Homo sapiens: one gene and its partner. The protein of the gene in region 1 purifies or fractionates together with the protein of each later gene. This does not show direct contact. Each region holds a gene or a part of one and is shown on either strand. Other genes may lie near its edges.

Evidence for each region.
Region 2: the proteins of GOLGA1 (region 1) and TDP1 fractionate together in Homo sapiens (co-fractionation; one large-scale study listed by BioGRID). This does not show direct contact.

The regions. Positions count from the first base shown.
Region 1 is NC_000009.12:124,920,412-124,924,230, reverse strand, and holds part of GOLGA1 (golgin subfamily A member 1), read left to right. Parts: intron 1-1,007; coding exon 1,008-1,136; intron 1,137-2,338; coding exon 2,339-2,508; intron 2,509-2,990; coding exon 2,991-3,102; intron 3,103-3,819. UniProt on the Homo sapiens protein: Involved in vesicular trafficking at the Golgi apparatus level. Involved in endosome-to-Golgi trafficking. Mechanistically, captures transport vesicles arriving from endosomes via the protein TBC1D23.
Region 2 is NC_000014.9:89,986,656-89,990,474, forward strand, and holds part of TDP1 (tyrosyl-DNA phosphodiesterase 1), read left to right. Parts: intron 1-2,249; coding exon 2,250-2,435; intron 2,436-3,061; coding exon 3,062-3,110; intron 3,111-3,819. UniProt on the Homo sapiens protein: DNA repair enzyme that can remove a variety of covalent adducts from DNA through hydrolysis of a 3'-phosphodiester bond, giving rise to DNA with a free 3' phosphate.

The DNA of each region.
Region 1 (3,819 bases):
AGGCATTCAATCTTACTGGTTACTCATGTTTTTCAGCCAGTTCAGTGTGTCACTAAGAATAGACATGTAAAATAAGGCTGGGCACAGTGGCTTACGCCTGTAATCCCAGCACTTTGGGAAGCAGAGGTGGGTGGATCACCTGAAGTCAGGAGTTCGAGACCAGCCTGGCAAACATGGTGAAACCTCATCTCTGCTAAAAGTAGAAAAATTAGCCGGGCATGGTGGTGCATGCCTGTAGTCTCAGGTACTCAGGAAGCTGAGGCATGAAAATCACTTCAACCTGGGAGGCAGAGGATGCAGTAAGCTGAGATCTCACCACTGCAAACCAACCTGGGCAACAGAGTGAGACTCTGTGTCAAAAAACAAACAACAACGACGAAAGAGTAGACACATAAAATATATATCTGGACTTGCTAAACAGATGTAAGAACTTTAAAGTTCTACATAGGCCATGCACGATGGCTCATATCTATCAACACTTTGAGAGGCTGAGGCAGGAGAATGTCTTGAGGCCAGGAGTTCAAGATCAGCCTGGATAACAGAGCAAGATCCTGTCTCTACCAAAAAAAAAAAAAAGTTCTACGTAATTGTTGCTTTTATTCCCCTTTTTCACAATTATTTAAAACACATTTATTTTTAAATAAAGAATTAAATTCTCTAGTTAAAGGATTAATTCAATTAAAGAATTTGTAAATAATGCCATATTTCTGTAATGCTTTCCATTATCAATGCATCATTGTCCACTGGCATGAGATTTCCTGAAGATTTTTCCTTTATTAAGAATTCCACTTTCAGGCCGGGTGTGGTGGCTCATGTCTGTAATCTTAGCACTTTGGGAGGCCAAGGCGGGAGGATTGCATGAGCCCAGGAGTTCAAGGCCAGCCTGGGCAACTAGTGAGACTCTGTCTCTAAAGACAAAAATTTTAAAAAAGAAAAGATTTTCACTTTCGTAATACAGATTTCTAATGCTTTCGTTGCCTGAGTTGATGTCTTCTTCTTTCAAATAGGAGAAAAATATTCTGACAGCCCAGTTACAGGAAATGAAGAACCAGAGTATGAATCTTTTCCAAAGGAGAGATGAAATGGATGAATTAGAGGGGTTCCAGCAGCAGGAACTAAGTAAAATAAAGCACATGGTATGCATTTTTGTTTTAGTAGCTAAATACTGAATAGATGATTATTCACTCTGATTTTACTAGTCATCACTCTCTAATTGCTGATAAACATACACCAGTAATATGTGATATTAATCATATTTGATATTAATCATATTTGTATGTTTTTAAATTTATTAAAATAGAAAAGTTCTGTTTAAAATGTTCTTTTTCTGTTTTGTTTTGGGTTTTGTTTTGTTTTGTTTTGTTTTGTTTTTAACTACTGGGTATATAAATTCTCTTATAAGCCCACAAAAATGTTATAGAAATTTGGCTATTGGTCCACATTTTTTTTTTTAAATAGATGGAGTCTCACGGTGTTGCCCAGGCTGGAGTATAATGGCTACTCACAGGTGCGATCATAGCACACTGCAGCCTCAAATTCGTGGGCTCAAGCTGTCCTCCCACTTTAGCCTCCCAAGTAACTGGAACTGTAAGCATGTACTGTAGGTGTGTGCCACCATGCCTGACAAGCTTAGATTTTTTTTTTTCTTTCCTTTCTTTCTTTCTTTTTTTTTTTTTTTTTGAGATAGAGTCTCACTCTGTCACCCAAGCTGGAGTGCAGTGGCATGATCATGGCCCACTGCAGCCTCGACCTCCCAGACTCAAGGGATTCTTCCACCTAAGCCTCCCGAGTAGCTGGGACTACAGGCGCACTACCATGCCCGGCTAATTTTTGTATTTTTTGTAGAGGTGGTGTTTCGCCATGTTACCCAGGCTGCTCTCAAACTCCTGGGCTTAAACGATATGCATGCCTCAACCTCCCAAAATGGTGGGATTACAGGCGTGAGCCACCGTATCCAGCCGAGATTTAAGTGTATTTTTCTTTTTTACTTCTTTTTTTTTTTTGAGATGGAGCCTAGCTCTGTCACCCAGGCTGGAGTGCAGTGGCGCGATCTTGGCTAATTGCAACCTCCACCTCCCGGGTTCAAGTGATTCTCCCGCCTCAGCCTCCCGAGTAGCTGGGATTACAGGCACCCGCCACCACGCCCGGCTAATGTTTGTATTTTTAGTAGAGATAGGGTTTTGCCATGTCAGCAAGGCTGGTCTCAAACTCCTGACCTCAAGTGATCCACCTGCCTCAGCCTCCCAAAGTGTTGGGATTACAGGCGTGAGCCAGCATGCCTGATCTTAAGTGTATTTTTCTTAGCATAGCCCAATGAAACTTTGTATTTTTGTGTCAGCTTTTAAAAAAAGAAGAAAGTCTAGGGAAAATGGAACAAGAATTGGAGGCACGAACCAGAGAACTTAGTCGTACCCAGGAGGAGTTGATGAACTCCAATCAGATGTCATCAGACTTAAGCCAGAAGCTAGAAGAATTGCAGAGACACTACTCAACGCTGGAAGAGCAGAGGTTCTTGCTTGGTCTGTGGGGCCCTTGGGAAGAGGTGTTAGTGTAGTTCTGGCTATAGCCTGCCCACCTTTCCCCATTGTTCATTACACCACTTTCTGATTCCGGTGCTGGCAAAGGCTTCTGGACACATCCTTACCTGCCTAGGACTCAGGCCTCACCCTACCTCCAACCCATTTTCCCCTTCAGCTGCTGAAACTCAGGACAGTTCCACCCTGCTGAACAATTCAGTGTGGTTTTAGTTTGTAAAGTATTAATAGACTAAGGAAAGGCAGGTCAGGATTTCTTTCTTAAACTAGGGTGGACTTTTTCTCTTTGGGCTCCTGCTTCAGAGAGAGCCGAGGCTTTTTCCGTTGAAAACCTGCATGTGGCTAATGATGCTTGTAGCCCTGACACAGAAGAAACCATTTGTATTTTTCCTGCAGAAGACTGTATATTAGATGAGATATCCAAATTTGTTCATTGTCTGCTTTCTTTTGATGAAGAGATCATGTGATAGCTTCAAAAACAGGTGCAGAAAGTAAGATCACAGCCCTGGAACAAAAGGAACAAGAGCTCCAAGCACTCATTCAGCAGCTTTCCATTGATTTGCAAAAGGTAAGTAGAATATGAGGAGAAGACCTGGATTTCTAAGATTCATAAAAACTAATTCTTTCAGAAATTTCTGCCTGAGAGTAGCTACTGAACATACATTTCTCATGCAGTCCACATGGCTCCATTTCCTGTACTAGCCAGGCTGCACTCAGATGGAAATGGCCATACAGCTGAACAAGGGTTGCTTAGCAGAAGTAGTCAGTATTTTCCTGTCAGGAATTCTCAAAGTACACCATTTGGTCGACTCAAATATGTCTCTCTTTTTTTTTTTTTTTTCTTTTTTTTTGGGACAGAGTCTTGCTCTTGTCGCCCAGGTATTATAGGCGCCCGCCACCACACCCGGCTAATTTTTGTATTTTTAGTAGAGACAGGGTTTTACCATGTTGGCCAGGCTGGTCTCAAACTCCTGACCTCGTGATCCACCAACCTCGGCCTCCCAAAGTGCTGAGATTACAGGCGTGAGCCACCGTGCCTGGCCTGACTCAAATATGTCTTTAAGCACATAATGGACCTTGAGCATGAAAAATACAATAGTGGCTGACATGACCAGGGCTGTACCTTTGACATACTTGGCTCTAATCCAGTTTGTTTTATGGCACGTAATCAAATGATGTCATTACAATTTGTTTTTTCATTTCATTGACATACATTTGTTTCTACATTAGGGCTGTGCTACACTCTGAGAATATAAAGATGAATGATAATATTTTTGAATATAAA
Region 2 (3,819 bases), on another chromosome or scaffold:
TCTAAGCCAGAGGCTTGTCCAGGATAGGGTGGCCCTTCAGGGGCTGAGCACTGCAGTAGAAACTGGGTGTTGTAAGTTGTCGGTTCAGCTCTGTTTCCTACACCATGCTGTACCCAAGGTGGACATGGAAACTTTGGGCTTTTTGGGAAGTGTATGTGTAAGTATTAATGCCTAACCTGTGTTAAGGAAAATAATACATATTAAATTAAACAAAACGTCAGTCAGATGAGCTACAGTTTATTTTTCTGCTCTCTCCAGCCCTCTAGGTAGGCATTCAGTACATATTTAAGTGGATACAGTTTCCAAATGTTTTCTTAATTGTTTCTGCAGCTTTGCATAATTATCAAAGCAGGAAATGCAGATCAGTCTTCTGCAGTGTTTTAGCTGGTATGTGTATGTAAATATTCTCTTTTATGTTTAGACCATCACAGCTGCCTGGAGCTCAAGTGTTAAACTATGACTGTTAAGCCTCTTTCAAATGATAGGAGTCAAAATATGTAATCCTTCTAGGTATTGTTTAAGTGTTGGTAGCAAAAAACTCACTTTGTTTCCTCTGCTCTCACACTACAACAGTCAACACAGAAAACTGTGACCAAATATGTGTGGGGTTTTCCTCATACACTAAGCAGGGGACACCAGCTGGGTGTCCTCTAATTCACTTCAGTTCTTATGCTGTCTTCCTGGAGATGTATAAAGAAAGTGACTTTAAAGAAAGTGATGATATAAAGAAAGTGATGGTATAAAAAAAGTTATTTTTTATTCCAAAGCTGGCTTAGAGGAATAAGTACAGGCTTCCTGTCTTAAGGATACTGCTTTGCTCTTGGAGCAGAAAGTGGACACTTTTAAAAGGGGCCTAGCATGAATGGCACGCAGAGGAGGAAGCAAGCAGGTGGATACTTCCTTACTTTCTGCCTTCTCTACCAGGCAGTCCATTTGGTCTCTTCCTGGGCAGAACTAGGTTGTAAAGATGGCTGAAACTCTCCAGGTGGGAGAGTTTCTTAGTGGGCATACTTTGGGTTGTAAATTTACTGCTGTCCCTCGAGGCAGTCCCCTGGTGGGAGAAAGTTCTGCTCTGGAGCTTCTAAGCACATAGATGAACTTGCCCTGTAGGGAGTGTCTAGTAAAGGAAAGGTAAAAGGTTATATTGTATTTCTAAAGGTCTAAGTAGGAAGTGGGGAAGGAGTTGGGGAATAGTAGGGAAAAAATAATTGAAAAAATACATTTTTTTTAAAGAAATATGGGGGTAGCCTCAGATCCCATAGATTGAGGGCTCCATCCCACAAGACTGCCCCTCTCCCTCAGACACCAGTTGCAAGTCTGGGCCTCCAGAACTTCTGACTGACCAGCTTCAAGTTGAGGTTCCCATGACCCTCTCTTTGGGCTTCATTTGCTAGAGCAGCTCGCTGAACTCAGGGAAACACTTAACATTTACTGCTTTATTATAAAGGATACAGATGAAGAGATGCATAGAGCAAGGTATAGGGGAAGGGGCACAGAGCTTTCATGCCCTCTCTGGATGCACCACCACTGTCCAGCAGCCCGCAGGTGTTCAGCTGTCGGAAAGCTCCCTAAACCCTGTCCTTTTGGGTTTTTAATGGAGGCTTCATTACATAGGCATGGTTGATTACATCACTGGCCATTGCTGATCAGCTCAACCTTTAGCCCCTCCTATCCCTGGAGGATGGGGGGTTGTGCCAAAAGTCCCAATCTTCTAATCATGCCTTGGTCTTTATCGTGACCAGCCCCCATCCTGAAGTTGCCTAGGGTCTGCCAGCCATCAGTCTCATTAACATACAGAAAGACTTCACATTGGAGATCCCAAGGATTTTAGTAGTTGCATGCCAGGAAACAGGGATGAAGACCAAATACATATTTCATAGCATCAAAGCTGCATTAAACACTTGTGATTTCAAGTAAAAAAAATCTAATTTCATATGACAAGTTGGTGGTTTATCTGAAATTTCTTCTGAAATGGGCCTTTTTAAACCTGTTTTTGCTTTTAGTACAAATCAAATAATTTTGGAAAGGAGAACTTCTGTCCATCTACTCCATTAAAAATATGTTTTTAGTATTTAAAAAAAATTTCCCAAAGAAGAAGTATGTATGTGTGGGTATGAAATTGATCACTAGTATTTTCAGCTTTTCTTGTTAATTAGGCTTTCCAAGAGCAGAAAACTGTTTTCAAATATTGCAGCATTTCTGTTAAGATTATTTGAGTCACTTTAACATTCACTTTTATTCTTTCCCAGCTTCTGAAAGACCATGCCTCATCCATGCCTAACGCAGAGTCCTGGCCTGTCGTAGGTCAGTTTTCAAGCGTTGGCTCCTTGGGAGCCGATGAATCAAAGTGGTTATGTTCTGAGTTTAAAGAGAGCATGCTGACACTGGGGAAGGAAAGCAAGACTCCAGGAAAAAGCTCTGTTCCTCTTTACTTGGTGAGTTCTCGTCCTCATTGAGGTAGTTTACTTTTATTCTCTACACAGGAGAAGAATTGAAAATTGGTCCTCTTTGTAATGGAGAGATGTTTTATTCTGTGATTCTTTTTTTTTTTTTGGCGTGGCGGGGGCGGGGTGCGGAAAGAGCAGTACATTAGCATCGTCATTTGTAATCAAGTTGCCTTTGCCTTAATATCCAGTGCTAAGAGCTTGCCGATTCGTTCAGGAGCTCCATTGCAGACACAGACTGGCCTGTGATTTTTCTATCCTTTCTTTCAGGTTGTTGAACCAAGGTAGAAAATATTTGATGTAGCACAGCCAGCAGAATTATGGGCATTTTAATTATTTAGAGAACTGTGAATTAATAATTAATTTTCCATTCAATGTTAACTTGAATTTCAAAGGAAAAAATACTCCAATTGAAGTATAATTTTACATCAAATATGGTTCCTGTTGTTTAATTACTAGTTCATTTTTTTCATAAGATGAGAACTTTTAAAAATTTAAAGCATATTTTCTAATTTAAAAGTATTTTTAACAGATTTTCATTTCCTTAAAAGCTGATTATCATTCCTTTTCTTCAACATGGTACATTCCGAGTTTTATTGTTTTCCTCTTATTTTTAGATCTATCCTTCTGTGGAAAATGTGCGGACCAGTTTAGAAGGATATCCTGGTAATTCTTGGGGAGACTGTCTTGATTGTGTTTTATGTATATTTCATGAATGTCCTGGTAAAGTTTTACTACTATTGCGTAGAAATTTGGAGATGGTTTTCACTTAACTATATAAGGATCATGAAAATAGGCAATATGAAGCTCTGCATTCCGCAGATGATACCCTTCAGTTTGGGTGTGTTATTAATCCTTACAGAAACCCTCTGCACAATAGTTTTCATTTTTACCAGTAAGGTAACCAGCAGGTTGGTTGTCCAGACAAGATAGCCAAATAAAATCAGCTTCCCCTTACTCTTCAATGCGTTTTCAGAGCTTATCCAACATACCTTCCTCTCATCTCTGCATATCCTCCCTTCCTGTGTTTGAGGTACCATGTGGTCCTTTTAAATGCCTGCTATAGATAACATTTAAGGTCCGGAATTTTTAAAATTTTGCCTTTGGTATAACTTTGTTGATATGTCTATTCTGTCAAGGGTGTCATCTGCAAATGCCTAAGATTTTTTGTAGGCATCTGTCAACGCTGTCCCTTTCCCTTATACTCATACCAGGCACTAAACCTTTATTTAGAATTCAGCAGCCCCGCTAGTTAGTGTAATCAGGAGATGTTAACTGAAAACCCACATAGTGGTTGTCTCTGGAAAAAGCAAAGTCTAATTGGCATTTGTTGATGGCTGAAAGCAGAATGCACTGAATTAAACTAATTTAGTCC